Linked DNA regions of Homo sapiens. The protein of the gene in region 4 interacts with the protein of the main gene of each other region in a pairwise test. Each region holds a gene or a part of one and is shown on either strand. Other genes may lie near its edges. The genes, in order: THOP1, DAZAP2, MID1 and EPN2.

Region 1 (7,024 bases), on a different chromosome or scaffold from region 4:
ACACCTCCCGACACCAACACCTCACGACACCCACACCTCCCGACACCAACACCTCCCGACACCAACACCTTCCGACACCCCCACCTCCCGACACCGCCACCTCCCGATACCCGCATCTCCCGACACCACCATCTCTGGCATTAAGTTCCTGGTGCATTTTGGAGGGGACGCACCCAACCAGAGCAGAGACCTGTGAGTGTCCATCACTCGCACATTGTCATACACTAGTTGCCATGTCCATGGATGACTTCTGCCGCCCTCACCCTCTGGGCATCAGTCATCCTGCCGTGACTCCGAACCTTCCCTCCTTGCCTGTCTTCTTACTGATTTGTTTCTGTCCGTGTGCATGAGGCTTCTGTCTTATTCCCGGGTTATCATTCATTATCATTTATCCCAGTGCTCAAATCGTCCCACATGGACCCTCAGGAGTCCCTCCGAACAATCCCTGTGTCCTTGTAATGCACCTGCTGTCCTCTGAACCTGCTCTTACTGTGGGGCACATGGTACCGCAGGCTCGGCCTCTGAGCCCGCGCTTACTGTGGGGCGCGCGGTACCGCAGGCTCGGCCTCTGAGCCCACTCTTACTGTTGGACATGTGATGTCGCAGGCTCGTCCCATGCTCTCCCTGCCCCAGCCCTCAGATGCTCCATTTCTTGGAGGAGACCTGGCGCCTTTGAGTGGAGGGTGACTTAGGCACCGGATGTGTTCACCACTGCCAGGGAGCAGCATTCCTGGGCACCGTTAACAGTTAGGAAGCAGACACGCATCTCTGCACCACACATGGACACACACACTCTTCTATTCTGTGTCTGTATATCAAATCCACAAGTGCAGCGGGGCATGCCGGCACACACCTGAGGTCCCAGCCACTCGGGAGGCTGAGGCAGGGGGATTGCTTGAGTCTGGGAGTTCAGGGCCACAGTGAACGTGAACTATGCATTCGTGAACTATCCATTGCAGCCTGGGCAACAGAGCAAGACCCTTTTTCTAAAAAAATAAAAACTTCCAGGAGTCCACTTTGCAGCTTCTCTTCCAGTCCAGCGCTGCTGGGCCCCCCAGCTGTCTCCCTTGCTGTCCTTTAACTCCCGTCTCCGACCGCCAGCCGTCACTCCTGGGTGACACACTGTCGAGATGGAGAGCTGCTGTTTGAAGGCCCGTGGTCCTTGGAAAGGACGATGTGCAGGTCCCGGGAGGCCTCCCCCTCATGCTGCAGTCACTCGGCAGACAATTGCCAGGCCCACGCTGGTGCTGGGGTACAAACGGGAAGGCGGGGGCTCTGCCGGCCACAGGACTCTCAGCTCCCTCATCACCACCCACACCCACGGGCTGGCCTCCCAAAATTTCCCCCATCTGCCTCTGGCCCCCCAACCGGATCATTCTTTCCACCCTTGCCTCCCTGGGGTCCCCGTGAGCTCCCGATCATTCTTTCCACCCCTACTGCCCTGGGGTCGGGGTGAGCTCCCAATCATTCTTTCCACCCTGACCGCCCTGGGGTCGGCGTGAGCTCCCGATCGTTCTTTCTACCCCTACTGCTCTGGGGTCCGTGTGAGCTCCGGATCATTCTTTCCACCCTGACTCCCCTGGGGTCGGAGTGAGCTCCCGATCATTCTTTCCACTCTGACCGCCCTGGGGTTGAGGTGAACCAGTCTTTGCATTGAAGCTGCAAGCCTGAGGCACGGTGGCCCTGGCGTCTCCCGAGCCATGAGGTAGGAACCCCAGAGGGTTTCAGTCCGGGATGCTGCCGCCCCCACTTCTCTTGAGGCTGTCGGGCAGGGGCCAGGTGGGAGGGTGTGGCTGCCGGGCAGCGGGGTGAACTGTGTCCTGCCAGGGGTTTTGTGGGTGGAGAAGGGACAGCAGGGCTCCAGTGAGAAGCTCTGGGAGTAGGAATTGGGTCTCTCTGGAGGGACACACTTGAAAGTGGTTGAGCCGTGGGGCTGCGTGCTGAGATCTCAGCTCTGAGCGGGAGGCTCTGCCTGGGGGTGGTTCTTCAGGAAAAGCAAAGCAGGACCTCCCTCTCCACGTGGGGCCTCCCTCTCCGCCCAGGGCCCAGCGTGCTCAGCTCTCCTGCTGTTTTTGTCTTTGATGGGAGGCACTGCCTCTAACGCTGGTTTCCTTGTGCAGTGGCCGGGCCACCCTTCCCGCCACCCTCCTCCCTTCACACATGAGGTTGGTGACGGCGCCCTGGAAGCCCACGATGTCCGGGGGTTGGGCTGGATTTAGCTTTAACCTCTCTGGGGCAGGAGATCCTGCTCTGAGGATGCTGGGGGGTTTCCTGGTGGGGTTAGAGGCGGGACGTGAGAAACGTGGCAGGTGGTGGCCAGGCTGTGGGGGAGCCAGGGTATTTCTTGATGGGGTTAGATGGGGGATGTAAGAATTGCAGCGGGTGGTGGCCAGGCTGCAGCTGCTCGCTGAGGGCCCCCTTGTAGCTTTCCAGGCAGAGGGGAAGCCCACCCCTTCCCTCACACGCTGTGTGCAGGCTGTGGGCCCATCAGTCCTGTCAAAGCCACCCTGGTTCTGTCCCCATAGGAGGGCTCCCCGAGGACTTTCTGAACTCCCTGGAGAAGATGGAGGACGGCAAGTTGAAGGTCACCCTCAAGTACCCCCATTACTTCCCCCTCCTGAAGAAATGCCACGTGCCTGAGACCAGGAGGAAAGTGGAGGAGGCCTTCAACTGCCGGTGCAAGGAGGTGAGAAGGCACGGCCAGGGGGCCCCAGAACAGTGGGTCTGGAGCTTGTGGGGCCCGTCTGCTCCATGTGTGTGAGGCACCTCCAGGCTTTGCACTTGGATGGCCTCCCAATCTCCCTGGCCAGGCCCAGTGGCCAGCAGAGGCCTCCCTGTGGGGCTCTGCCGTGCCCTGGAGGTGTCTGTGCTGGGCTCCACCCAGACCCTGGGGCCACAGCTCAGGGCCCAGTTCATCCTTCCCAAGCTGAGCCTCCTGCTGCTGCTCTGAGCATCTGGCCGCGCACACGTCTCGTCCCTCCCTTATCTGGAGCCGCCCCTCAGGTGTGTCAGCCCAGATCATTCCTTTTGTCTTAAATGATGGTGCCCGGACCTGAGCCTGGGTCCACAGGTGGGTTGTGACTGGGCTATCTCGCTGTGACTGGCGTCAGACGGCCGTTCCCACAGGGACACATGTAACTGTCCACGGCGCCATGGTGTGGTCGGTCAGGTGGTCTCTGCACGTCTCCCATTCGCCATCTGGAACAGGCAGAGGCTCTAGGAGTGGGCCTCTTGGTCCCCTGACGACACCAAGTTGGTGCTTGTGCGGCTGGCAAAAGGGGGATACACGCTGATCACTGCAAAGGGATGGGCGGGCACTGATCACTGCAAGGGGACGGGCGGGTGCCCATCACTGCGGGGGGACGGGCGGGTGCCCATCACTGCGGGGGGACGGGCGGGTGCCCATCACTGCGGGGGGACGGGCGGGTGCCCATCACTGCGGGGGGACGGGCGGGTGCCCATCACTGCGGGGGGATGGGCGGGTGCCCATCACTGCGGGGGGTGGGGGACGGGTGGGTACCAATGGGGGTACAGGTGGGCACCGATCACTGCAAGGCAGGGGGGTGCTCCTCGCTGTTCAGGGACCGGGAACTCAGTCTGCTCAGATGGGGCGTGGCCTGCCCTCTACATGTTGGCTATGAATTCATGTTGCTGTTAAGCCTAAGTAGGTGGACCCGTGGACTGGGCACACCTCGACTTCCCCACTGCGCCTTAGAAGGTCAACTGGGCAATCCCGTCCTGGTCCCCAGGCTTGGGTCCTAGTGGCAGAGTGAGGGCCAGGCCAAGAGGGCGCACACGGGTGGGCTGAGTTCCAGGTCCCGGGGGATGTGCCGCCTCAGAGACCTTGCTGCTGGCGGTCGGCCTGGCCCCTATTTGGCTGGCTGCTCTGCACGCACCTGCTGGTTACAGCTGGGTTTCCTGTGGACCCAGCTGGTGGGCACATCTGTCCTGAACAGGCCTCTGTTTCTCCTCGTAAACGCCTCACGTGGCTTTCATGCGTCCTCCCCCACCCCCACTGGCTTGGTTGGCAGTGCCAGTCCTCAGAAGTGAGGCTGTGTGCATGTCATTTGCTGGTGGCGATAGGCAGAGCCCGTGAGACTGGGAACCAAGGCCTGGACATGGAGGTGTCCCCACATGCAGCAGTGATGCCCTCGGAGGCTCCTCGGACAGCCCCTGGTCCCCATACCACGTTCCGTGTGAGGCCTTAGAGTCATCTGCACCCCTTCTGGTTCCAAAAAGGCCTTGGGATTATGATAACGCTGGTGGCATGACCAGAGGAGTTGTGTAGTAACACAGGCCGAGAGGGGCAGGGACCGGAGGTCAGACGGAGCTGGATATGAGCCTTTGGCCCTGGGACAGGGCGTGCTGGCCCTGGAGGTGGAGGGAGTGGCGCCCCTGGGTGACAGTGTGGTGGTGTCGGTTGCAGGAGAACTGCGCTATCCTCAAGGAGCTGGTGACGCTGCGGGCCCAGAAGTCCCGCCTGCTGGGGTTCCACACGCACGCCGACTATGTCCTGGAGATGAACATGGCCAAGACCAGCCAGACCGTGGCCACCTTCCTAGGTAGCCCTTCCTTCCTCCTCCACTGGGGTCCCTGTGGGGAAGGTTCTCAGGGTCACCCCAGGGGACAGTCGGTGCTACCCCTAGAGCCTTGTCCTTTCCCTCCATGAAGAGGGACTTCTGACGCCTGCCCTGGCTCCCTCACTCCCCCCGAGGGACCCTTACAGAACAGGGAAGCGCCCGGGCCCTGGGGTCAGTCCCATGCTTGCACCCGGCCCCGCCGCCCCCTCACCCTGAGCGTGAGGATGCTCGGCCCCTCGAGGGGTTGCCGGGAACTGCGGGTCCTCCCTTCCAAATGGGGAGCCTGACGAAGTCGCGGCCGCGGGCGGGCGAGCCCAGAGCCATGGAGGAGCCCGCGAGGCGAGAGGCCCACCTTTCTGCCCTCCCCGCAGATGAGCTGGCGCAGAAGCTGAAGCCCCTGGGGGAGCAGGAGCGTGCGGTGATTCTGGAGCTGAAGCGTGCGGAGTGCGAGCGCCGGGGCCTGCCCTTCGACGGCCGCATCCGTGCCTGGGACATGCGCTACTACATGAACCAGGTGGAGGAGACGCGCTACTGCGTGGACCAGAACCTGCTCAAGGAGTACTTCCCCGTGCAGGTGGTCACGCACGGGCTGCTGGGCATCTACCAGGAGCTCCTGGGGCTGGCCTTCCACCACGAGGAGGGCGCCAGTGCCTGGCATGAGGACGTGCGGCTCTACACCGCGAGGGACGCGGCCTCGGGGGAGGTGGTCGGCAAGTTCTACCTGGACCTGTACCCGCGGTGGGTGAGGGCAGCGGGGGCGGGGGGCGCACCCCGGCCCTGGGTCTCCTCGGAGCCCGGTGTGCCCGTCTGAGATGGGAAGGAAGTCGTTGCCTGCTCCATGGGGCCTCGGGGATGAACCCCGAGACGTAGCACCCGTGGGCACACCACAGGGGCCGAAAATGCAGCTGTCCCCGTTTCCAGTCTCACTCAGCCACCCCGACAGGGCGCAGCTCTGCCCAGGCCGGAGTCCTTTAGGGGAGGGATGGCAGCCGGGGCCTGGCCGTGGTTTTCATGCTGCCCTGCGCCAAGCCACCTCTGCTGAGAGGGAGGTTTAGAACCTCAGAGGTGCCCGGCGGTCTGGGTTAGCAGTCAGGTGGGCTGAGGGATGCGGAGTCAGGGACTCTTGCGGTGTCTCTAGTCCCTGCGGGGCCTGACGCTGCCTCCCTCCCCAGGGAAGGAAAGTACGGGCACGCGGCCTGCTTTGGCCTGCAGCCCGGCTGCCTGCGGCAGGATGGGAGCCGCCAGATCGCCATCGCGGCCATGGTGGCCAACTTCACCAAGCCCACAGCCGACGCGCCCTCGCTGCTGCAGCATGACGAGGTGGAGACCTACTTCCATGAGTTTGGCCACGTGATGCACCAGCTCTGCTCCCAGGTGGGTGCGGGCCCGGGCAGGGGCAGGGGCAGGGGCAGGGGCAGGGGCTGCCTGTGGTCAGCGAGGCCCAAGCCTGGGGCTTCGGCTTCCGGCTCTCTCTGCACCCGTCCGGTGGCTCCTTCATCCAATGCCACCCAAAGATGGTGACTCCCTGTCATGCCCGTGTCCTGGGGCTGCCCCAGCAAAACACCACAGACCAGGGCTTACACAAGGTGCGTGTATTTCCTCATGGTCCTAGAGGCTGGAGTCGGAGGTCACAGTGTCAGCAGGGTTGGCTCCCTCGAGGTCCCTCCTTGGCTTGTGGCCGCCACCACCTCCCCGCATCCTCATGTGGTCGTCCTTCTGTGTGGGTCCCCATCTCGTCTTCTTACAGGGACCCCAGTCATGCCGGATCAGGGCCCGCCCAACAACCTCACTTGACCGTAGTGACCTCCTTAGACATCCTGTCTCTAAGTAGTCACATCCTGGCCAGGCGTGGTGGTCCACGCCTGTAATCCCAGCACTTTGGGAGGCCGAGGTGGGTAGATCACCTGAGGTCAGGAGCTCAAGACCAGCCTGGCCAACATGGTGCCATCTTGTTGCAAGCATCTGTCCTAGCACACAGTCAGCAATCGCTCCTCAGAAAGGCTCTGTCCTATGAAGTCACTGAGAACCCTGAGAAGTGCATGCAGACCTGTCCCTCCAAGGGGACCCTGGTCACGTGTTCGCCAACTGATCATTCCAGAACCTTACTGTGTGTGTTTTGGGTTCAAGACACCTTACTGCTGTACAGCGCTGACGGGTTCACGTTGAACACATGGCTGGTGGCTCTGTCACCCACACCTGAGCACAGCTTGCACACACAGGGTGTCCCCATGAGGCACATCATGGCCTCCTGGTGCTGAAGGAGACGAGACAGTGCTCTGCACAACGCTTGGGGCCTTTTAAACACAAAATCACCAAGAGCAGAAAGATGCAAACACCGTGCCCCCACTAGACTGAGAAAAGGACGCTTGCTCATAAAATGAGCCGAAGTGAGAAGACAGAGTGCGGCCCTTCTGAGGACCGTCTGCTCAGGGGCGCCGCAGTGC
Region 2 (7,685 bases), on a different chromosome or scaffold from region 4:
TCTTAGCCTCCCAAGTAGCTGGGATTACAGACGCCTGCCACCATGCCCGGCTAATTTTTGTATTTATAGTAGAGTCGGGGTTTCACCATGTTGGCCAGCCTGGTCTCAAACTCCTGACCTCAGGTGAGCCACCGTGCTTCGCCCTTACACAGTTTTTGAATGAACTACTGGAAAACTGAAGGCTCGCTAATGACACATTCACTTCATCTCTAGCATGTAGTTACTGAGCAGTCATTTGAGCTCTAAATCCCACGCACTGGGGAATTAAGTAGGAAAAAATGATAACTAAAATTGTTAATATCTTTCTAAAAGCTACTTACTAGGGATTATACATTCTACTTTTTTAATTATCAGGGTTCCTAGTGCAACACCATGCTGATGGCAAATATTAAGTAAATGGTAAATGCTTATGGAATGAATAAGGAGCATTACTAGACCAGTTCAGTGTACCACAATGAACTGGAAAAGCAGCAAGCAGGACTCGACAGACATGAAAACAAAAGAATCTGGTTAACTCAGCCCCCAGTGAGATGCTACTCACTTGCCACAGTTCTGCCCCCTCAAACACTTTCTGCCTGAGTATTGGATGTCAGTAGTTGTACCAACACTGGCAACTATCATCCAGAAATGGTAAGAGAATGAATATGAAGTCATTTCAGAAAGTTAAAATACACAAGGGCTGAGTTTCTTCTGATGAGGTCATACTCACAGGAATGTTGCCAGCAGTAGCCCCAGCTCCAAATCTGGCACCTGCATCATACCCTCCTTCCACCAGCACTGTGGAGCCAGGTGGATAGATGGGACCGACTGGATAATAAGCCATGGGGATTGTGGAACCTAAAGGCCCAACAGCCACAGACTGGGCCATGGGAAGATACAGAGAGGCTCCAGGAAATGCGGCTGACATGGTGGGGACTGTGGCAGCCCCTGGGTGCACAAAGCTCGGACGATAGAGCTAGAAGAGGCAGAAGAGAAGGCAAAATGTTACTTTATGACATTCCTATTTGAGATCTCTTTAATGAGCTAATTCTTAATTCTCCTTATGCAGGTTATACTTTTTGTAAGATTATACAAGTTGCCTTTCCACTGGCCTTCAATATTCTCCTGGATCACTTTCTGCTATAGCTAATGTTGGGCTCACAGAACGCAAATTCATCTTCTGCACCTTAGCCTGTGCCAAATAACACAAAATCATCAAATAATGCACTTTCAACTCCGACAAAAATTGCCAAATTATATAGTGTTTTAGATTATTCATGTTAGCATTTGTGAAGAGTAAATATGTGAAGTCAGATTTAGCTAAGGACTAAAGGACCACCCTAAGAGTATTCCCAGCTAGTTCAAATCTGGCAAACTGGAAGCACCTCTGAGTAGGCAGGTGGAGCATCGGTATAGGGTGGAGCCTGAGGAAGATGCAAGGTCTGAGGGTATACTGGATTCCCAGGAGGCTGCACAGGGTAGGTTGGCTGTGTTGGATATTGACCTGAAAGACAAGAAAAAAATGAAGGTTGCCTACTACACAGAGCTACCAAAATGAGGCAGGTCATATCGGGTAGCTAACTTAGTGGGAGCAAGCAGAAGGGGATTTGCAAATAGTCTGCCCCAGAGGGCCTGATTCCTGGAACTAAGAAAATATGCATTGTCTTTGCACCCTTAAAATGGAAGGTGCTGGATTCTAACGAGACAAGAAAGGCACTGCTCACTGCTCCTACTAACATACCGAAGTAAGGGGTTAAGTCTACCTGGGCCCAAGTTCCCTCCGGAATGCAGGACAGGTCTGGGGTTCTGGCCTGCTGCTGTTCTGGCTTATCAAGGGTGCCTCTGCTCTAGGTAGTCTCCACAGCCTGTCTACAACCAGCCCAGACTTCGTGGGTAACAGCAGTTCTGATTTTCCTTACAGATTACTATTCAAGGTCGACTTCCAAACAAAGGGTGTGAATGATGGAAGTGAACCGTGAGACTGGGAAAAGGGTGCAGGGCTGAGGGGTGAGGAGGAATATCCTCACTGGAAAAGCGGGGGATCAGGTTTGGTTTTTTGTTTGTTCTGAGACGGAGTCTCGCTCTTTTGCCCAGGCTGGAGTGCAGTGGCGCGATCTCGGCTCACTGCAACCTCCGTCTCCTGGGTTCAAGCAATTCTCCTACCCCAGCCTCCCGAGTAGCTGGGATTACAGGCGCCCGCCACCACGCCCAGCTGATTTTTGTATTTTTTAATAGAGACGGGGTTTCACCACGTTGGCCAGGCTGGTCTCGAACTCTTGACCTCAGGTGATCCGCCCGCCTCGACCTCCCAAACTGCTGGGATTACAGGCGTGAGCAACCTCGCTCGGCCTTTTTTTTTTTTTTTTTTCTATTCCTTTTTTACCCCCTCAACCTATTCCTGCGTTATGGGAATCATGTTCCGACAGACACACTGGTACAACCACAGAAAAGGGGAGAAGTTCTGATCCCGTCAGCGAAGGGCGAGGGGGTGCGAAGGGAAGGAAAAGAGACCTCACAGGCCCCGGCCCACGAACCAACTCCAGCAATTCAGTAGTTAAGTTCGGCCCCGCTGGGGGTTCCGGAGCGCGGCGCCCCGCCTCCGCCGGCTCTCCATTGGCCTACGCGAATGCCTGCGCTAGCGCTCTATTTGCTCCTGCGGATGCCCATCATGTCAAGCCCCCCCACCACCCGAGCCCGCAGCTCCAAACTGCGCCACAGAGTTTACGGAGGAAAGGGCCTGGAGGCAGCAAGCTGCCGTAATTTGGGTATGACGAAGGCGTCAGGCGCAGCGCCCTGGACTGCAGCCGGCCAAGGAGCATGGCGCAGCCCACCCCAAACCTGGCGTTTGGTGACCCTGGGCTCCGAATCCGCTCGCTCTGGGCCAGCAGTACTCCCCCCGACGGCCTCTGCCACCCTCGGTCCTTGCCTTTGCTGTTCATGGTGGTTGCGGGTCCGGTTTGTCTCGGCGTCGCGGACGGTTATTTTTTTCGTCCTCTTCCTGTTCGGAGCTACTTCCGTGTCACATGATGGTCCGTCCGCCTAGCGTCACCCGACGCCCGAGTGGCGCTGCCGCCGGAAACTCCGCCCCTGCTCCGGGCCTCCAGTCGGCCGCGGGAGGGTCCGCGCGGTCCCGCCCACTCGCCTTGGCCCCACCCCCTGCTCGTTTCTGTCCTCCCCCCCCCTACCGGTGTCCCTCAGCTGGAGAAAAACCAAATGCAGGTATTGTCTGGAAACAGGATCTTTTCTCTGTTGGACGCTCGGATGCAGAACGATGCAAGCATTCCCCGGAACCTTTTTCCACCTACACGCATTCACTCAAGGTCACCTCACCTTGGCAACCTTCCACGAGGGGCTTAGATTTCTGCAAATTTGTCGCACTGCCTGAAATCGGCTCCCCACACCTTAGTTTATCATGCGTCCCTCCCCACCAAGCCCAACTTAAGCTTCAGCTCTGTTAAAATTTATTTTGCCACTCCAGCTCACATGTATCCTTTCCTGAATGAGACCTGCACTGGAATCTTCGCTGCCCTGTCTTCCCCAGGACAGTCGTTGCCTTTCTCACGTACAGGAAGGGGTTATGTTTTCCGTGCTGTACGCAACACCTGGCACTGAAACTGACATAACTGCACTACCCATGGAGTGTTTGTGGCCCTTTCCTTTTTTTAGCACCTGTTGCAGGTGACCTGTATGGTACCTCTATTTTTCTCTATGTATGGCTTCTCTTTCTAACCTAATTATCCTTAAGGGCAAAGATGGCATCCTTTAGGGCAGCGATTAAGTGTTTTCTTTTCTTTTTCTTTTTTTTTTGAGACGGAGTCTTGCTCGCTTGCCCAGGCTAGAGTGCAGTGGGGCGATCTCACCACAGCCTCCACCTCCCGGGTTCAGGCAATTCTCCTGCCTCAGCTTCCTGAGTAGCTGGGCCTACAGGCGTGCGCCACCATTCCTGGCTAATTTTTGTATTTTTAGTAGAGACGGGGTTTCACTATGTTGGCCAGGCTGGTTTTCTTTCTTTCTAAAAAAAGTTTTAATTTTTTCTTTTCTTTTTTTTTTTTTTTTTTTTTTTGAGATGGAGTCTTGCTCTGTCGCCCAGGCTGGAGTGCAGTGGCATGATCTCGGTTCACTGCAACCTCCGCCTCCTGGGTTCAAGCAATTCTCCTGCCTCAGCCTCCCGAATAGCTGGGATTACAGGTGCCCGCCACCACGACCGGCAAATTTTGTATTTTTTAGTAGAGACGGGGTTTCACCATGTTGGCCAGGCTGGTCTCGAACTCCTGACCTCAGGTGATCCACCTGCCTCGGCCTCCCAAGGTTCTGGGATTACAGGCATAAGCCACTGCGCCGAGCCTTATTTTTATTTATTTATTTATTTATTTATTTATTTATTTATTTATTTATTTATTTTTGAGACAGAGGCTTGGTCTGTCGCCAGGCTGGAGTGCAGTGGCGCAATCTCAGCTCACTGCAACCTCCGCCTCCAGGGTTCTAAGCGATTCTCCTGCCTCAGCCTCCCGACTAGCTGGGATTACAGGCACGTGCTATTCATTTTTTAATACAGAGATGGGGTCTCCCTGTGTTGGCCAGGCTGGTCTTGAATTTCCAGCCTCAAGCGATCTTGCCACCTCCATTGTCCAATGATTAAAGGGTTAACTCTTAGGACCCAGGAACTCTCCTGGGCCTACCTCCTGCTCATGTAAACTGCCCTCAGATTGGTCAGGCCTACTTTACAGGTTGTTGGGTATTTTGCTTGTCACAGTGGGACCTGGGCATTGGGAAAACCAGGGCAGAGCCAAATGAGATTACTAACAAAAATGAAAGAGTTGCAGGCCAGTGCTTTCTCTGGCAGGTGGAATTAAGAAGTAAATGGTGGCTGGGTGCAACAGCTCACACCTGTAATCCCAACACTTTGGGCAGCCTAGGCAGGAGGATCGCTTGAGCCAGGAGTTCAGAACCAGCCTAGGCAGCATAGTGAGACTTCATCTCTACAAAAAAAAGTAGTAGTAATTAGCTACTTTCTTGAACAGGATCAAACTTTGGCATTTTCTTCATTCTCGTAGATTCCCCAATGAGATGAAGATGTTTATTTGGTCATTTATCAAACATTCTTTCTTACATTAATTTAACAAATATTTTTTGAGCACCTATTATGTGCCAGGCCCTGTGACAGGCACTAGGGAAATAATAATGAAGAGACAGGCATAGTCCATACTCTCATGGAATTTATGGTCTACCTAATGGGAGAGACAGAAAAGTGAACACATAATATGATTAGTGCTGACATAAAGACAGCATGGAGTGTGAGGAGAACACATAGGTGAGGCACCTACTCTATTCTGATGTAGTCAGGGAAGGTTTCCTGATGCAAGTGATGTCTGAGATGAAATCTGAAGGGTGAGAGCAGGTTAAGCAAGTGAAGAGGGTTCCTGGAAGAGGGAACTGCTTATGCAAAGGCCTAGAGGTGAGAAGGCTTATAGAGGGGGAGGGCATGAAAGAGTTCAGTGTAGCCAGAGCATACTGGTAAGGGGACTGATAAAAGATGACCCTGAAGATCCGGGTGCGGTGGCTCATGCCTGTAATCCCAGCACTTTGGGAGGCCAAGGCGGGCAAATGACTTGAGGTCAGGAGTTCGAGACCAGCCTGGCCAACATGGGGAAACCTCGTCTCTACTAAAAACACAAAAATTAGCTGGGCATGGTGGTGCGTGCCTGTAATCCCAGCTACTTGGGAGGCTGAGGCAGGAGAATTGCATGAACCTGGGAGGCGGAGGTTGCAGTGAGCCGCGATCGTGCCATTGCACTCCAGCCTGGGTGACAGAGCAAGATTCTGTCTCAAAAAAAAAAAAAAAAAAATTGACGCTGAAGAACTGTGAGCCAGACCTTGCAGGGACGCCTTAGAGCCCATGTAAGATCCCACATGAAGATACTGGATTCTATGTTAAGGGCACTAGTTAGCCACTGAAGAATGTTAAGCAGGAAAGTGATATGATCTTGTTTTTGTTTGATTGATTGATTGATTGGGACAGGGTCTTGCTCTGTCACCCAAGCTGGAGTGCAGTGGTGCAGTCACAGCTCACGGCAACGTTGAACTCCTGGTCTCAGTTCATCCTCTCACCTCAGCCTCCCGAGTAGCTGGGACAGTGGGTGCTTGCCACCATGCCTGGCTAATTTTAAATTTTTTATAGAGACAGAGTCTCACTTTGTTGCCTAGAGTAGTCTAGAACTCCTGGCCTCAAGCAATCCTCCTGCCTCGGCCTCCCAAACTTGGGATTACAGGCGTGATCCACTGCTCCTGGCTTGTGTTTTTCTTTTAGAAAAATGCTTCTGGGCCAGGCACAGTGGCTCATGCCTGCATTCCCAACAATTTGGGAGTCCAAGGCAGGAGGATTCTTTGAGCCCAAGAGTTCAAGACCAGCCTGTGCAACGTGGTGAAACCCCATCTCGGCAAGAAATTTCTAAAAAAGTATCCAGGCATAGAGGCACGCACCTGTGATCCCAGCTACTCGAGGGGTTGAGATAGGAGGACTGCTTGAGCCCGGGAGGTCGAGGCTGCAGTGAGTCGTGGTCACACCACTGTACTCTGCCAGCCTCGGTGATAGAGGCTATCTCAAAAAAATAAAGAAAAGAAAAGGAAAAATCCCTCTGGTTGCTAAAGAATATAGAATAGGTTAAAGAAAGGGCAAGAGTGGACGTATGTCTGAGATACCATTTAGAATCAAATTTAGTCATTTAGGTGTGATGATGGCAGACTGGCCTAGGGAAGAGGCAGTACAGTAGAGAGAAATGGGGGGATTCCAGAAATATCCAGGAAGCAGAAACAACTGGACTAGTTCCAGGACTAATGTCAGGACAAAATTTCTACAAAGTCAAAACTCCATATAGTCAAATGACAAATTGGAAAAATATATTTGTAATTTACATCACAAAGAGCTAATCTTCCTGCATGTAAAGAACTCTTAGACATCAGTAAGAATATGATCAACCATTAGAAAAAAATGGCAAATGACATTTACAGACAGACAGTTCACAGAAAAGGAAAAACAAATGACTCCCTAACACATGAAATGATGTTCAGCCTGGGTCGTAATCAGAAGGCAGATTAAACCCCACCGATATCATTATCAGATTGGCGAAAATCCAAACATTTGCTAACATTATTTGCAGGGCTGTGGATAAGCAGGCATTCTAATTTGTTGGTGATGGGGGTGAAAATTGGTACAAATCCTATAAGGTTAATTTGGCAATATCCATCAAACTTGCAAACATACCATTCCCACTAATGGGAGTGATTCTACAGATATATTTGCACTCACGAGAAACGTATGTATAAGGCTATTCATTGCAGCTTTTCTGTAACAGCAAAAGATTAGAAATAACCCATATTTCTATCAATAGGAAACAGAAAAAATAAATCTTGATACATCCATACAATAAAATACTATGTGGCTGCAACAGAGAATGAGAAAGTACTCCAAGGTGTTCTTTAAATAAAAAAGGGAAAGATTCAAAACCATATACTTAGTGTGATACATTTTATTTATTTTATTTTTTATTTTATTTTGAGACAGAGTTGCACTCTTGTCACGCAGGCTGGAATGCAGTGGCGTGATCTCGGTTCACTGCAACCTCTGCCTCCCAGGTTCAAGTAATTCTTGTGCCTGAGCCTCCCAAGTAGCTGGGATTACAGGTGTGCACCACCATGCCTGGCTAGTT
Region 3 (7,024 bases), on a different chromosome or scaffold from region 4:
GACCTCCTGCCAGCCTGGCCTGTTGCTGGCAACAGTGACAAGCCCGTGGTGGGAGTTTTTTGGCCAAAAGGGTCCCTCAGCAGTTTTGTAAGCCTCCTTAAATTGCTTTCTCAACTGTAATCATTATCATTGTCATAACATAACTTATCACATGAATATGATGACCACTGAAATCCTTGTTCTAATTAACTAAATCATTGCTCTAAATATTAGTCATTGGTACTCAAACTTACTGCAGCCACTGAAAAAGCCCCCAGATATTTTTCTCCACTTCGTTCTGCCTACCCACGTCCCACTGCTGGATTAAACAATAGAATTATTCAGAAACATAATGAACACATGCCAAAAATATTGCCTCTATCACAATCATCTTTGTGAAAGTCAATGTTTTTTCTCAGGAATATATTTTGGAAAATGACATCCCACACTTAAACACGATCATCTCTGCTGAAATCCCCACATTTGATTTCATGTACATTTCATGCCCATTTCTATAGTTACTGCCTTCCTATTGTTCTGAAACCTGGTTTGGTATTGCAGAGTAAAAGTCCTTAAATCTCGTATACATTAATACGTAAGTTTATAAATTCAAATTTATAAAAGACTCTAGTTTATTGATGAATATTTCTACATTTTAATTTTCTGTGCGAGGTTAAACCTGACTCTGACACAATAAGATTATTCTGATTAAATACAAATTATGGAAATTACAGTTTCAATTACATTCTAGTTTTGAATGAAGCCTTTTAAAAAACAAAATTGAAAAAAAAAATTGCACATTTTCAGTTACTGAACTTTGAGAAAATGTTAACTGGTATATGATGGCTCAGGATGCTTTTTCCTCCTTTTTTCCCCAGTGAATAGAAAGAGAATTATTTGGAATGTACACACACTTACCCTTTCATGACCTGTGTTTGGAATTATTCTGAGATGCATTCAAAGCTGACACCCCCCTATGGTTGACCTCCCTGTGCCTAATCAAATCTTACATTCTTGTTTCCAGATAGCTGATCAGCTTCCTTGGGTTTTGCTGATGACACAAGAGAGCTTTGCCTGAAGATGGAAACACTGGAGTCAGAACTGACCTGCCCTATTTGTCTGGAGCTCTTTGAGGACCCTCTTCTACTGCCCTGCGCACACAGCCTCTGCTTCAACTGCGCCCACCGCATCCTAGTATCACACTGTGCCACCAACGAGTCTGTGGAGTCCATCACCGCCTTCCAGTGCCCCACCTGCCGGCATGTCATCACCCTCAGCCAGCGAGGTCTAGACGGGCTCAAGCGCAACGTCACCCTACAGAACATCATCGACAGGTTCCAGAAAGCATCAGTGAGCGGGCCCAACTCTCCCAGCGAGACCCGTCGGGAGCGGGCCTTTGACGCCAACACCATGACCTCCGCCGAGAAGGTCCTCTGCCAGTTTTGTGACCAGGATCCTGCCCAGGACGCTGTGAAGACCTGTGTCACTTGTGAAGTATCCTACTGTGACGAGTGCCTGAAAGCCACTCACCCGAATAAGAAGCCCTTTACAGGCCATCGTCTGATTGAGCCAATTCCGGACTCTCACATCCGGGGGCTGATGTGCTTGGAGCATGAGGATGAGAAGGTGAATATGTACTGTGTGACCGATGACCAGTTAATCTGTGCCTTGTGTAAACTGGTTGGGCGGCACCGCGATCATCAGGTGGCAGCTTTGAGTGAGCGCTATGACAAATTGAAGGTTAGTCCGATCCGCCTTAAGCCAACCCCTTTCTGCCAGAAAATGTCATGGAAATAAAAAGTGTATTCACTGCTAGCTACATGGCAGGTGAAGGTTTTCTCCTCACCTTTGTTATCTGATTAGTTTTAGCATGTTTTTGGCAACCTATAAATGTTACACAATAAGGGTATCTTGTAAAAGTTGACTGCTGCTTGTAATTTTAGCGTTGTCAAGGTGAGGGCAAATTCTAAAAATCTGGATCATTTTCAATCCATGCAGTTTTTCTGGATCATTTTCAATCCTTACAGTTCTTCCAAAGAGAGTGCTGCCTCTCTCTGAGAGAGAGGGAGAGAGAGAGAGAGAGAGAGAGAGAGAGGGAGAGAGAGGGAGAGAGAGGGAGAGAGAGAGAGAATGACAGATAAAATCTGGCTTTGGGCATTTGGGGAACACTTACTTTTCTCACTCATCTGGGAAAACTAATTCACTCTCATTGTACCTGTATCTAGTTACTGCACAAACAAAAGAATAGAGGGAAGAATGTCTGTAGCAAATGTGGGATTTTAGAGGACACGTGACCTTTTATTCCTTGTATAAACGATATCCAGCTTATTGGTGAAATTCAGTGCTCTGACAATCTCAGGTTTCACGAAAGAATTCCTTTTCGTGTAGGCTCTTTATTCAGTAAGGTTACAGTCAAGACTATTTGAACTTCATTTTTTACATGAAATTATTAACCTAACTCCAGCTTGGGGGATAATGATTAATATGACTATATGTGAAATAAAAGGATCACTTTCTAGGCAGGGCGTGGTGGCTCATGCCTGTAATCCCAGCACTTTGGGAGGCCGAGGAGAGTGAATCACTTGAGGTCAGCAGTTCAAAACCATCCTGGCCAACATGGTGGAACCCCATCTCTACTAAAAATAAAAAAATTAGCCGGGTGTGGTGGTGGGTGCCTGTAATCCCAGCTACTCGGGAGGCTGAGGCAGGAGAATCACTTGACCCTGGGGGGTGGATGTTGCAGTGACCCAAGATCGCGCCACTGCGCTCCAGCCTGGGTGAAAGAGCGAGACTCTCTCTCAAAAAAAAAAAAAAAAAAAATCACTCTCTAAGTATGGATAGAAAGCACTAGGGAAGAAATAATAAGCCAAGTCTCCACATGTTTGTTCAATTTCAGGCAACAGTGGGTCTAATTATTGAAAACTCAGCTGAGAGAGTTTGAGTGAGATACTATGTTCATCAGCTAATTTTAGATCACAAGACACCAATTAAAAGAAAGGAAGTATAAATTAAAAGCTCTAAGTAAATATATATTGAAGTCCTTCCTCTCAGGAAAAACACATACCATGTTGTTGAGCAAACAAAATGAATCACATGATCAAAAGAGTGTTATCACTTAGAAAACAGTGTCACCTTTAACAAATGGTTTCTATCACCTCTCCTTAGCGCTAATGGGTGGTTGTGTTTACTGGGACCACATAGTTTATTCTGTGACAGTGGGATTAACGGACCACATCTGGGATTTGGCTTTGCTATTTCTTGACATGTTGAGGGAAGCCGACATGCTGAAGTCAATTCCTGCTTCTCAATGTCACTTGGGCAACAAAAGCATCACCTGGGCAGCATGTTTCACTTCAAGTATCCAAAGAATTACTGGTGCAAATCCATCTTTAAACCATGTAGAGGAAGTCAAGCACAAGGACTCAGGTGACACAGACAACAGAAGACAGCCGCTGACAGGCTTTCCAGAACAGTGCATGGCAGCACAGGAGAAAAGTACCACCAAAGTTAATCATAGCAAAGGCAATGCATGTATGAGCTGTGCCTCTAGAGCAAATTCTGAAGAAATTGCGAAGGCTATTAATTTTTACAAACCAAGGTAATCTTTTTTTTTTTTTTTTTTTTTACCCCTTTTTTGGTTGGTGGTGGAGCTGAAGGGAGAATATTTAGGATAACTGAACAGAGATGTTTGATTTTTGTTTTCCAAAATGTAAACATGCCAGATCTTTGTTTCTTTATTAAAAATGTTCCTTTGATTGGATTTGCACTACCTTTTAATGATTGTTTGTTAAAACACCACAATCATAATGATGTTCAATATTTAACAACTCCCAGGCTTGATATTTATTTAAATCTTGTGGTCAGGTTCTGCTCAAGTACTCATGGCCTGTCACAGCAGAGTTATTAAATATTTACATAACATCTCCAAATTTATGAAGAATTCCTGTCATGCTCTAGCCCTCTTTGTGATAAAAACAAAACTCTTCAGTTACGAGCCCTGCACACTTTAATTGAGCCAGTGGCCTATCGGTTGTTCTACTGTCACATGGAGGGCCTGACAATTAATGATGTGGTTTCTTTTTATTTCCTAGTTACAGAAATATAAGCATATAAACAGCATCCAATGCACCGAAACACATTTACAGCCGTTCAATAAGATGTACTTATGAGCATTTGAACAAATAACTTATCGACATAGCATGTTTGTTTTAAAACATGCCACTTACGTTAGAATTTTAAAAATAATAATTATGACATTTGGATGTCTGATATTTCAGTTATCGCATACTTATGAACATATGTACATCCTTGTTTTATTTAAAACCTAAGCACAATATAAATGTTGATTTTTTTGAAGGAAGTAATAGCATACCAAGAGGACCAAAACCAAGGAAGTATATTTCTGTTAATTACTACTTTGGTCTGAAATGTGCTCTGAACATGCATTTTTCTGTAGCTCTAGGATCTCATATAGATGTGGATTTGTGATGATGTGAGAACACAGATAAAGCATGGAGGAATTTGAGGATGCTTTCATTGATAAGACAATAGATTTGCTTTATTAATTTGCATATGTAAGGACCCTGGTGTCTTTGGAAACATTTTTGTCCTTCTGTTAGTAAAAGTTTATTACCTGAAGAAGGGAATTCTGCAATTATTATGAAGAATAATTTCTTGCAATAATACTAAACTTTGGGGGACATATTTTACTCATTAGATCTCAGTATAAGAGATGTTTGTTTATACAAAAAATCAGAATATCATTTTGTACATTACAATCTTTTTCTAAGTGTAAAAGAAAAAGAGATAAAAATTCTAACATGTTGAACTCGTACAAATAAAATCATCCACATCATGTAAAATAGCATCATGTCAGTAATCTAACGCTTTCGGAGACTATGCATTGAGAGGCACTCATGAAATATTGAAGCAAAGAGAAAATTAAGGTAGCATTTCCTGAACTCTACTAAGATAAAAAGAGAAAAGTTTTCCTGCCAAGTGCAAAGGTCTCTAAGTGGAGCGTATCCATAATGTGGATATTTCTTTACATCGTTTTAATTGAATTTTAAGAAGCCTCTCAGTCCTTCAAACTTGGAGGAAAAATTTGATTTGTGAACCACATAACATATAAGAGAATTTAATATAATTAATGCATTCCAGAGTTTTCAAGGAATTAAAATGCAGTAGTCCTCTTTTTCTGTTCCAACATACAAGGTTGGAGCTCTTGTTTCTTTTCTCTAATTATACCTATAAAAATATACAAATTGAAAAAAACTGACCTTTCCTTGCCTTTCAGTTTCAGCATAGCCCCTTCAAATTAGCTGAAGCTGAAGTTCCAAACTATTGTTTTGCTATTCTTATTCTAAAGGCTGGCTGAGGAAGTTTGTTTGTATAATGCATGTTTCAACGGATCATCCCATTGTAATTTTTTAATAGTTTGATTTAAAAGTTCAAATTAAAGCTCAGCATTTCTATGTAGCACTTTTTATCTGGAAGTGAAGACATGAGATTTCATTCTTGGGTTTAATTTATAGATTGTAAGGTTCTATGTTTGAAAAATCTTTCCCAGTTTGCAACTAGGAAAGTTGTAAGTGTATACTGAGCTAGACTTCTTTTTATTATAATTTCTATAACTTGTTTCTTCTTTGAAAACCAGTAGCAGGCATAGTGCAGGTTCTAGTGCTATGGTGTGTGATGCACACACATACTTGCATATACATATACATACATGCATTTATTTATTTATTTAATATTATAATCTTCCTGAATCTAAGTTGGAGACAAATTCAAGTGACCAGTATTTTCATTAGGGATATTTCATTCTGCAGGCAAGAGATGACAACAAACATAGCAATAATAACTATATTCCCATCACTCAAAATATTTTACCTGTTCCTTGAATGTTTGGTAGATGGATACAAGTCAACTTTGGACTTGGTATATTTTTTGTGGGAAGAGTCTTATCTTGAAGGGGTTTTTTTTTGAAGTTACAAATATGTGTATTTTTTAAAATGTGTCTTTCTGTTTATTGGTTTCTAGTTTAAATCCCTTAAGATCAGGGCTCAAGACAATTGCATATGGTCTCACTTATGGATGCAGTATGCTTTAAGAAATATTAGAATAAGTTTATTGTATCTTCAAAATTTCCATGAGCTCATTAATGTTTTCAGTCTGTGTAATCAATTAATGACTAGGAGAGGTGCACTTAGGCCTTCCACTCAGAGAGTGAAATTTTCTTTTTTTTTTTTTTTTTTTTACTTTAAGTTCTGGGACACATGTGCAGATTTATTACATAAGTATACATGTGCCATGATGGTTTGCTGCACCTATCAACCCATCATCTAGGTTTTACACCCCACATGCATTAGGTATTTGTCCTAATGCTCTCCCCCGCTCGCCCCACAACCCTGACAGGCCCCAGTGTGTGATGTTCCCCTCCCTGTGTCCATGTGTTCTCATTGTTCAACTTCCACTTATGAGAGAGATCATGCGGTGTTTGGTTTTCTGTTTCTGTGTTACTTTGCTGAGAATGATGGGTTCCAGCTTCGTCCGTGTCCTTGCAAAGGACATGAATTCATTCTTTTTCAGGCCTGCATAGTATTACATGGTGTATATGTGCCACATTTTCTTTATCCAGTCTATCATTGGTGGGCATTTGGGTTGGTTCCAAGTCTTTGCTATTGTAAATAGTACTGCAATAAACATATGTGTGCATGTGTCTTTATAGCAGAATGCTCTATAATCCTTTGGGTATCTACCCGGTAATGGGATTGCTGGATCAAATGGTATTTCTGGTTCTAGATTTTTGAGGAATTGCCACACTGTCTTCCACAATGGTTGAACTAATTTACAACCACCAACAGTGTAAAAACATTCCTATTTCTCCACAGCCTCGCCAGCATCTGTTGTTTCCTGACTTTTTAATAATCGCCATTCTAACTGGCTTGAGATGGTATCTCATTGTGGTTTTGATTTGCATTTTCCTAATGACCAGTGATGATGAGCTTTTTTTCTTCATATGTTTGTTGGCTGCATAAATGTCTTC
Region 4 (7,024 bases):
TCAAGTGATTCTCCTGCCTAACCTCCCGAGTAGCTGGGACTACAGGCGTGTGCCACCATGCCCGGCTAATTTTTGTATTTTTAGTAGAGATAGGGTTTTGCCATGCTGGCCAGGCTGATCTCGAACTCCTGACTTCAAGTGATCCACCTATCTTGGCCTCCCAAAGTGCTGGGATTACAGGTGTGAGCCACCATGGCCGGCCTTGGATTCGGGGAAGTTGAGGCTGGAAAAGATGTGAGGAATTACGTAGTTTGTATCCCTTTTTTGTCTGCTGGACTTTTAACTCATGTATTCGGTGTAAACAGACCTCTTCTGTCAATACTTTGCCGTCTAGCTCGTCCGATGTTTGGCCCCTTTTTCTCTGCTATCCTACCTTCACCAACCCACACAGTCTGCTGGTGCACTTACGACATTGTCCGTGTATCTGGGGCTCTTGTGACACTGTGACGTCTTTGAGGCCAGTGGTCAGCTTGTCTTTACTTCTCCAGTACCAGGCTCGGTCTCTGATAGATGGTAGATGCTCAGTAAAGGTTTGTCACCAGTATTCCTCGAGGCAGGGGAGCACATTTTTATGGCTCCCTACTGTTCTGTCGCACTGTTGCTGAAATCACTACTGTTGGTTCAGCAATTGTGTGTCAGTTGCATAGGTTTATCCACCTCATCTGCAGGTGAGGAAACTGAGGCCTAGGGAGCTTAAGTTACATGCTCGAGGTCGCGCAGCCAGTAAGTGATTTGAACAGATCTGTTGGACTCCAAAATGTTATTATACCTGTTACCTACTTCGAGGACCAAGTCTCATGGGGATGAAGAGACACACTGCAAGTTAACAGTGGACTGAGGGAGGTGGGGTGATATGATTAAGGTGGTTGAGGATGGGAAGAGCACATTTGTTTTTTGTCAGATGCATTGTGAAATGAATGTTTATGTCCATCTGTTGAGTTTTTGAAAATTGACAAACTTGCCGGGCATGGTGGCTCACGCCTGTAATTCCAGCACTTTGGGAGGCCAAAGCGGCCGGATCACCCTGAGGTCAAGGGATCGAGACCATTCTGGCCAACATGGTGAAACCCCATCTCTACTAAAAATACAAAAATTAGCTGGGCGTGGTGGTGCACACCTGTAGTCCCAGCTACTCGGGAGGCTGAGGCAGGAGAATCACTTGAACCTGGGAGGCAGAGGTTGCAGTGAGCCGAGATCGCACCACTGTGCTCCAGCTTGGCGACAGAGCAAGACTCTGTCTCAAAAAAAAAAAAAAAAAAAAAATTGACAAACTTTCTGATAAGTTCGTCAATGGAATTTTATTGCTTAACTAGTTCATTCAAGTTAACTAAAAATAGAAACTTAGAAAAACAAATACAGTGAAATAAGTATATGTTGAAAGCCGTTTCAGCAGCCTTTTTTTAAACCACTGTAATTTCCATCAACATTTAACATAGGGATTATCACCCATTTGTGAGTAGAAAAACTGAGGCCCAGAGAGGTTAAGTAAGCTGTGAGGAACTGGCACAGCCAGGATTCAAAGTGAATCTGTGTAATTCCCAGGCCTGGGTCCCTTCTGCTCCACTGGCCCCTGTAGAAGGCCCCACAAAATAATAGGTATTCATTTAAATAATAGAATAAATTTGTTGTCTGAAAGTCACCACCAAGTTTATTTAGAAGGTTGGGAATTGTGAATAACGAGATTTCTGGCTCTTTCCTAACCTTAGAACCTTTGAAAACACTGTGGTTTGAATGTCAATAATTAATGGATCATTTTAGCTGAGAGACACTAGATTTGGTGTTTGATCTGAAAAAAAAAAAAAAAAAGCCTAGGCCAGCCACGGTGGCTCATGCCTGTAATCCCAGCATTTTGGGAGGCTGAGGTGGGCGGATCACTTGAGGCCTAGAGTTTTTGAGACGAGTCTGGCCAGTATGGCAAAACCCTGTCTTGACCAAAAAAATACAAAAATTAGCCGGGCATAGTGGCATACACCTGTAGTCCCAGCTACTCAGGAGGCTGAGGCAGGAAAATCACTTGAACCTGGGAAGGGGAGGTTGCAGTGAGTCTCCAGCCTGGGTGACAGAGCAAGACTCTTGTCTCAAAAAACAAAAACAAAAAACCTGTCTTCTTTTGAACCAGATCCGCAACATTGTTAAAATGCTCCCTATCCATGCATTGGATTCTTTCTGTGACTCATTCCCCTAGTACCTAGGTGCTGGAGCCTGCTTCGTTCCTGGGCATAGAAAGTCCTTTTCCTGATTCTGTTTCCTGTTGGTCCTGGTCTAGGCAGAGTGTGCTTCACTTTCAAGCCCTCTAGAGACAGGACAGGTAACTTAATTCTCTTTCTGTTCAAAGCAATACAAGGAATTGGACATGCAAAGGGCTGTAAATAAAGGGACTCCCCATCTTCTCTTCATGGTAACCCTGCTGATATATAGAACAGGGAAAAGTAGGCTCATCCTGGGGGACGGCTGATTGTTTAGGGCTAATGCATGATGTGGATTTAAAAGCATTTATAATTAATCACTTCTGAGTGCAGGCTTCATTTTTCCTCTTGGTCCCACCCCTCTTAGGTAGTTGCACGTTGCAGCAGCTCGATAGCTGAGAACACCAAGTGGTACAGTTAATTTGGCTTCAAAGGCCATGTGGCAGATAGCTTTGGAATGAGGTGTGGGTACTAATGGGCCTCCTGGCTGGGTGGCTTTGGGCACTTTAATCACTGAGCTTTGGTGTCCTCATCTCTAAAGGGGGGCTCGTAATCACTACTTCATGAAATAGACTAGCCTTGTTTCTCAAACTCCTGTGTGCAGCAGAAGCACCCAGAGGGCTTGCTGAACACGTGGCTGGGGCTGCACCCCATTGTTTCTCATTAGGGAGGGGAGGCCTGAGAATGTGTCTTTTTTTTTTTTTTTTTGAGACAGAGTCTTGTTCTGTTGCCCAGGCTGGAGTGCGGTGGCGCGATCTTGGTTCGCTGCACTCCACCTCCCAGGTTAAAGCGATTTTTCTGCCTCAGCTTCCTGAGTAGCTGGGATTACAGGTGTGTGCTACCATGCCTGGCTAATTTTTTTTTTTTTTTTTTTTTTTTTTTTGAGACGGAGTCTCGCTGTCTCCCAGCCTGGAGTGCAGCGGCGCGATCTCAGCTCACTGCAAGCTCCGCCTCCCGGGTTCACGCCATTCTCCTGCCTCAGCCTCCCGAGTAGCTGGGACTACAGGCACCCGCCACCACACCCGGCTAATTTTTTTGTATTTTTAATAGAGATGGGGTTTCACCGTGTTAGCCAGGATGGTCTCGATCTCCTGACCTTGTGATCCGCCTGCCTCGGCCTCCCAAACTGCTGGGATTACAGGCATGAGCCACTGCGCCCGGCCATGCCCGGCTAATTTTTTGTATTTTTAGTAGAGATGGGGTTTTACCACGTTGGCCAGACTGGTCTCAAACTCCTGACCTCAAGTGATCCGCTTGTCTTGGCCTCCCAAAGTGCTGGGATTACAGGTATGAGCCACTGTGCCTGGCAGAGAATGTGTATTTTTAGCCAGCTTCCAAGTGCTGCTGATGCTGCCAGTCTAGGGACCAAATTTGGGAACCTTGGCCCAGAGGACTTTATGGGAAGGTGTGTAAGATGTCTAGCACCTGCTGGCTGTGCAGTAGGAACTCAAAAATGACACTGAAATGTTTCTGAATATTGGTCTGAAGATGATGGATGGCGTGACATTTGGAAAGGAAATGGGGAGAGAAGATGTCATTGTCCTTCAAAAAGGCTGTAAATCTTGGATGCTGTTGAAAAAGCAGGTTCATCATTCTCACACATCATGTAAGAAGTTTACTGTCTAGGCCTTTTAGAATTGTAACTTGGGGGCTGGGTGCAGTGGCTCATGCTTGTAATCCCAGCACTGGGAGGCTGAGGCTGGTGGATCACTTGAGGCCAGGAGTTGGAGACCAGCATGGCCAACATGGCGAAACCCCATTTCTACTAAAAATACAAAAATGAGCCAGGTGTGGTGGCGTGGGCCTGTAGTCCCAACTACTCGAGAGGCTGAGGCACGAGAATTGCTTGAACCTGGGAGGCGGAGGTTGCAGTGAGCCGAGATTGTGCCACTACACTCCAGACTGTGTGAGGGAGTGTGACTCTTCTCAAAAAAAAAAAAAAAAGAAAGAATTGTAACTTGAAAAGGTTGAGGGAGTAATGTTGTTGGGTCCTGGATTCCCACGGGGCCACTTGGCATGGACCACTGGTGTTAATGGAAGTTGCTTCTCCTCCCTGCAGCAATTCAGATTTAATATTCTTTCATGTTTACAGTTCGAATTTTTTTTCTTCAGTGGTAATTATCAACTTGTCCATCAAAACCGAATGTGCAGGGAGGTGTGTGTGAGCCCCGATGGTTTTTGAATATTTCCTGTGTGCGAGGCCTTATATTACTAATTTTATGCACTGTGTTTAATTTTCATGGTGGTCCTGCAAGCCCTATCACCATTTCTCATTTTGCATTTTAAAAAACTAAGAGGGGTTCAGTAACCTGCCCCAGGCCATACAGTTAGTATGAACTCCTGCTGGTATGCCCCAGCTGGTATTTGCTGCCACCTGTGTCAAACTCAGAACTGCTTTATTTCCACGACCTCATTTGCAGCTGTGCCAGGTGCGCCCATTACCTCACTGTACCCTCACAACAACCCCAAGAGGTAGGCTGAGCAAGCTGAGGCTCGGAAGAGGCAAGCTTGGTCATGGGCACCTGGCCAGTGGCTGGCTGGACCTGAATTCAGTCCCACACCTGTCTGATTTTGGAGCTTTATGAAGTTGTTTCTATGATAACAGCTTACCTCTCTGTCAGGTGGCCCTAAGCTGCCTGGATGTGTACAGCAGGGACCTAGGGCTACCCTAGATGGCTTGACCCCAAGGAAGTCTGTGTGGGCTAGTAAGGGTTTTTGTGTTTGCAGAGCTGTGTTAAAATAATTGGCCAAATTTTTCCTTGAGCGAAGGGGACATTTCTTTTTACTTTGTGATCCTGCAGCTCTGCACACTGGTGTGGGTACTAAGGACTGAAAACCCTCTACTAATGCTACTTTGTTAAAAGGGGGTCAAATATGGAATTTGGTAGTCTTTTTTTTTTTTTTTTGAGTTGGAGTCTCTGTTGCCAGGCTGGAGTGCAGTGGCGGGATCTCAGCTCACTGCAGCGGCGGGATCTCAGCTCACTGCAGCCTCTGCCTCCCAGGTTCAAGCAATCCTCCTGCCTCAGCCTCCCGAGTAGCTGGGACTATAGGCATGTGCCACCACACCCAGCTAATTTTTATATTTTTAGTAGAGATGGGGTTTTGCCATGTTAGCCAGGATGGTCTTGATCTCTTTTTTTTTTTTTTTTAAAGATGGAGTTTTGCTCTTGTCGCCTAAGCTGGAGTGCAATGGCGCGATCTCGGCTCACTGCAACCTCCATCTCCTGGGCTCAAGTGATTCTCCTGTCTCAGCCTCCTGAGTAGCTGGGACTACAGGCACGTACCACCACGCCTGGGTAATTTTTTTGTATTTTTAGTAGAGACCAGGTTTTACCATGTTGGCCAGGCTGGTCTCGAACTCCTGACCTCAGGTGATCTGCCCGCCTCGGCCTCTCAAAGTGCTGGGATTACAGGCGTGAGCCACCATGCCCGGCCCTTCTTCATCTCTTGACCTTGTGATCCTCCTACCTCGGGCTCCCCAAGTGCTGGGATTACAGGCGTGAGCTATCGCACCCAGCTGGAATTTGGTAGTCTTAAAAAGTTACATGTGGCTGGGCGTGGTGGCTCATACCTGTAATCCCAGCACTTTGGGAAGCCGAGGCAGGTGAATCATGAGGTCAAGAGATCAAGACCATCCTGGCCAAATGGTGAAACCCCATCTCTACTAAAAATACAAAAATTAGCTGGGCGTGGTGGCGCATGCCTGTAGTCCCAGCTACTTGGAAGGCTGAGGCAGGAGGATCGCTTGAACTGGGAGACAGAGGTCGCAGTGAGCTGAGATCATGCCACTGCACTCCAGCCTGGCGACAGAGCGAGACTGTCTCAAAATAATAAGAATAATAATAATTCCATGTGAAGTATGTCCTTCCCCAGTAGGCAATTAACACCTGGGTTCTAGCCAATGGGTAATTTTCTCTCTGGTCTTAAAATGTCCTGGGGAGGCTGGGGTGTGAGCATTTTCCCAAGGTTTGAGCACTCTTTGCAGCTCCCCAACCAAGGAATGGTAAACAGCTATGTGTTGGTGCTTGCCCTGCACTTGTGGGAGGCCCTGGAGGCTTGGACTTGAGTTTGTTTTGTGAACTCTTTAAGACTCTGAGGTGAATAAATCAATGTGAGCAAAAAGTTGTATTAAAAGGCCCCTTCCGCCCCCCCCAAAAAAATATCCTAGCAATAAAGGGACGCAGTTGTTTTGTTTTGTTTTTTTTTTCCCCCCTGAAAGCAAGTCCTCCCTGTGTGCCTTTTTTTTTTTTTTTTTTTGAAGCGGAGTCTCGCTCTGTCACCCAGGCTGGAGTGCAGTGGCGCGATCTCAGCTCACTGCAGGCTCCGCCCCCGGGTTCACGCCATTCTCCTGTCTCAGCCTCCCAAGTAGCTGGGACTACAGGCGCCCGCCACCACGCCTGGCTGATTTCTTTTTGTATTTATGGTAGAGAGGGGGTTTCACCGTGTTAGCCAGGATGGTCTTGATCTCCTGACCTCGTGATCTGCCCACCTCAGCTTCCCAAAGTACTGGGATTACAGGCGTGAGCCACTGCGCCCAGCCCCCTGTGTGCCTTTTTGATACTCAGAGCTGTCCTGGGATATAATGACTATACTATGGATGACAAAATTTGGGAAACATCTGATTGGAGAAAGAATTTGTATGTCACTTTATGAGAAGCAGCTGGGAGATGTAGAAGTATGGGCATTTCAAGGACAGTTTCATGACTGAGGCCAGTGTCAACCTGAAAAATATGGAACACGTGATCTAGAGGCAAATAATGGTTATAAATGAAATGCCACCAAGAACTTAATCTAATTGAGAAGACAAAGTTACTATTTGTGAGACAGAAGCTAGCAGT

The links.
Region 1: the proteins of EPN2 (region 4) and THOP1 interact in binary tests that used the Homo sapiens proteins (3 or more experiments, as listed by UniProt).
Region 2: the proteins of EPN2 (region 4) and DAZAP2 interact in binary tests that used the Homo sapiens proteins (3 or more experiments, as listed by UniProt).
Region 3: the proteins of EPN2 (region 4) and MID1 interact in binary tests that used the Homo sapiens proteins (3 or more experiments, as listed by UniProt).

The regions. Positions count from the first base shown.
Region 1 is NC_000019.10:2,802,491-2,809,514, forward strand, and holds part of THOP1 (thimet oligopeptidase), read left to right. Parts: exon of another isoform or gene 1-1,705; intron 1,706-2,120; exon of another isoform or gene 2,121-2,165; intron 2,166-2,525; coding exon 2,526-2,686; intron 2,687-4,426; coding exon 4,427-4,562; intron 4,563-4,951; coding exon 4,952-5,318; intron 5,319-5,752; coding exon 5,753-5,954; intron 5,955-7,024. UniProt on the Homo sapiens protein: Involved in the metabolism of neuropeptides under 20 amino acid residues long. Involved in cytoplasmic peptide degradation. Able to degrade the amyloid-beta precursor protein and generate amyloidogenic fragments.
Region 2 is NC_000012.12:51,234,141-51,241,825, reverse strand, and holds the start of DAZAP2 (DAZ-associated protein 2), read right to left. Parts: upstream 3,001-7,685; 5' UTR 2,919-3,000; coding exon 2,906-2,918; intron 1,484-2,905; coding exon 1,365-1,483; intron 956-1,364; coding exon 710-955; intron 1-709. UniProt on the Homo sapiens protein: In unstressed cells, promotes SIAH1-mediated polyubiquitination and degradation of the serine/threonine-protein kinase HIPK2, probably by acting as a loading factor that potentiates complex formation between HIPK2 and ubiquitin ligase SIAH1.
Region 3 is NC_000023.11:10,561,583-10,568,606, reverse strand, and holds part of MID1 (E3 ubiquitin-protein ligase Midline-1), read left to right. Parts: intron 1-1,003; 5' UTR 1,004-1,059; coding exon 1,060-1,719; intron 1,720-7,024. UniProt on the Homo sapiens protein: Has E3 ubiquitin ligase activity towards IGBP1, promoting its monoubiquitination, which results in deprotection of the catalytic subunit of protein phosphatase PP2A, and its subsequent degradation by polyubiquitination.
Region 4 is NC_000017.11:19,240,344-19,247,367, forward strand, and holds part of EPN2 (epsin-2), read left to right. Parts: intron 1-7,024. UniProt on the Homo sapiens protein: Plays a role in the formation of clathrin-coated invaginations and endocytosis.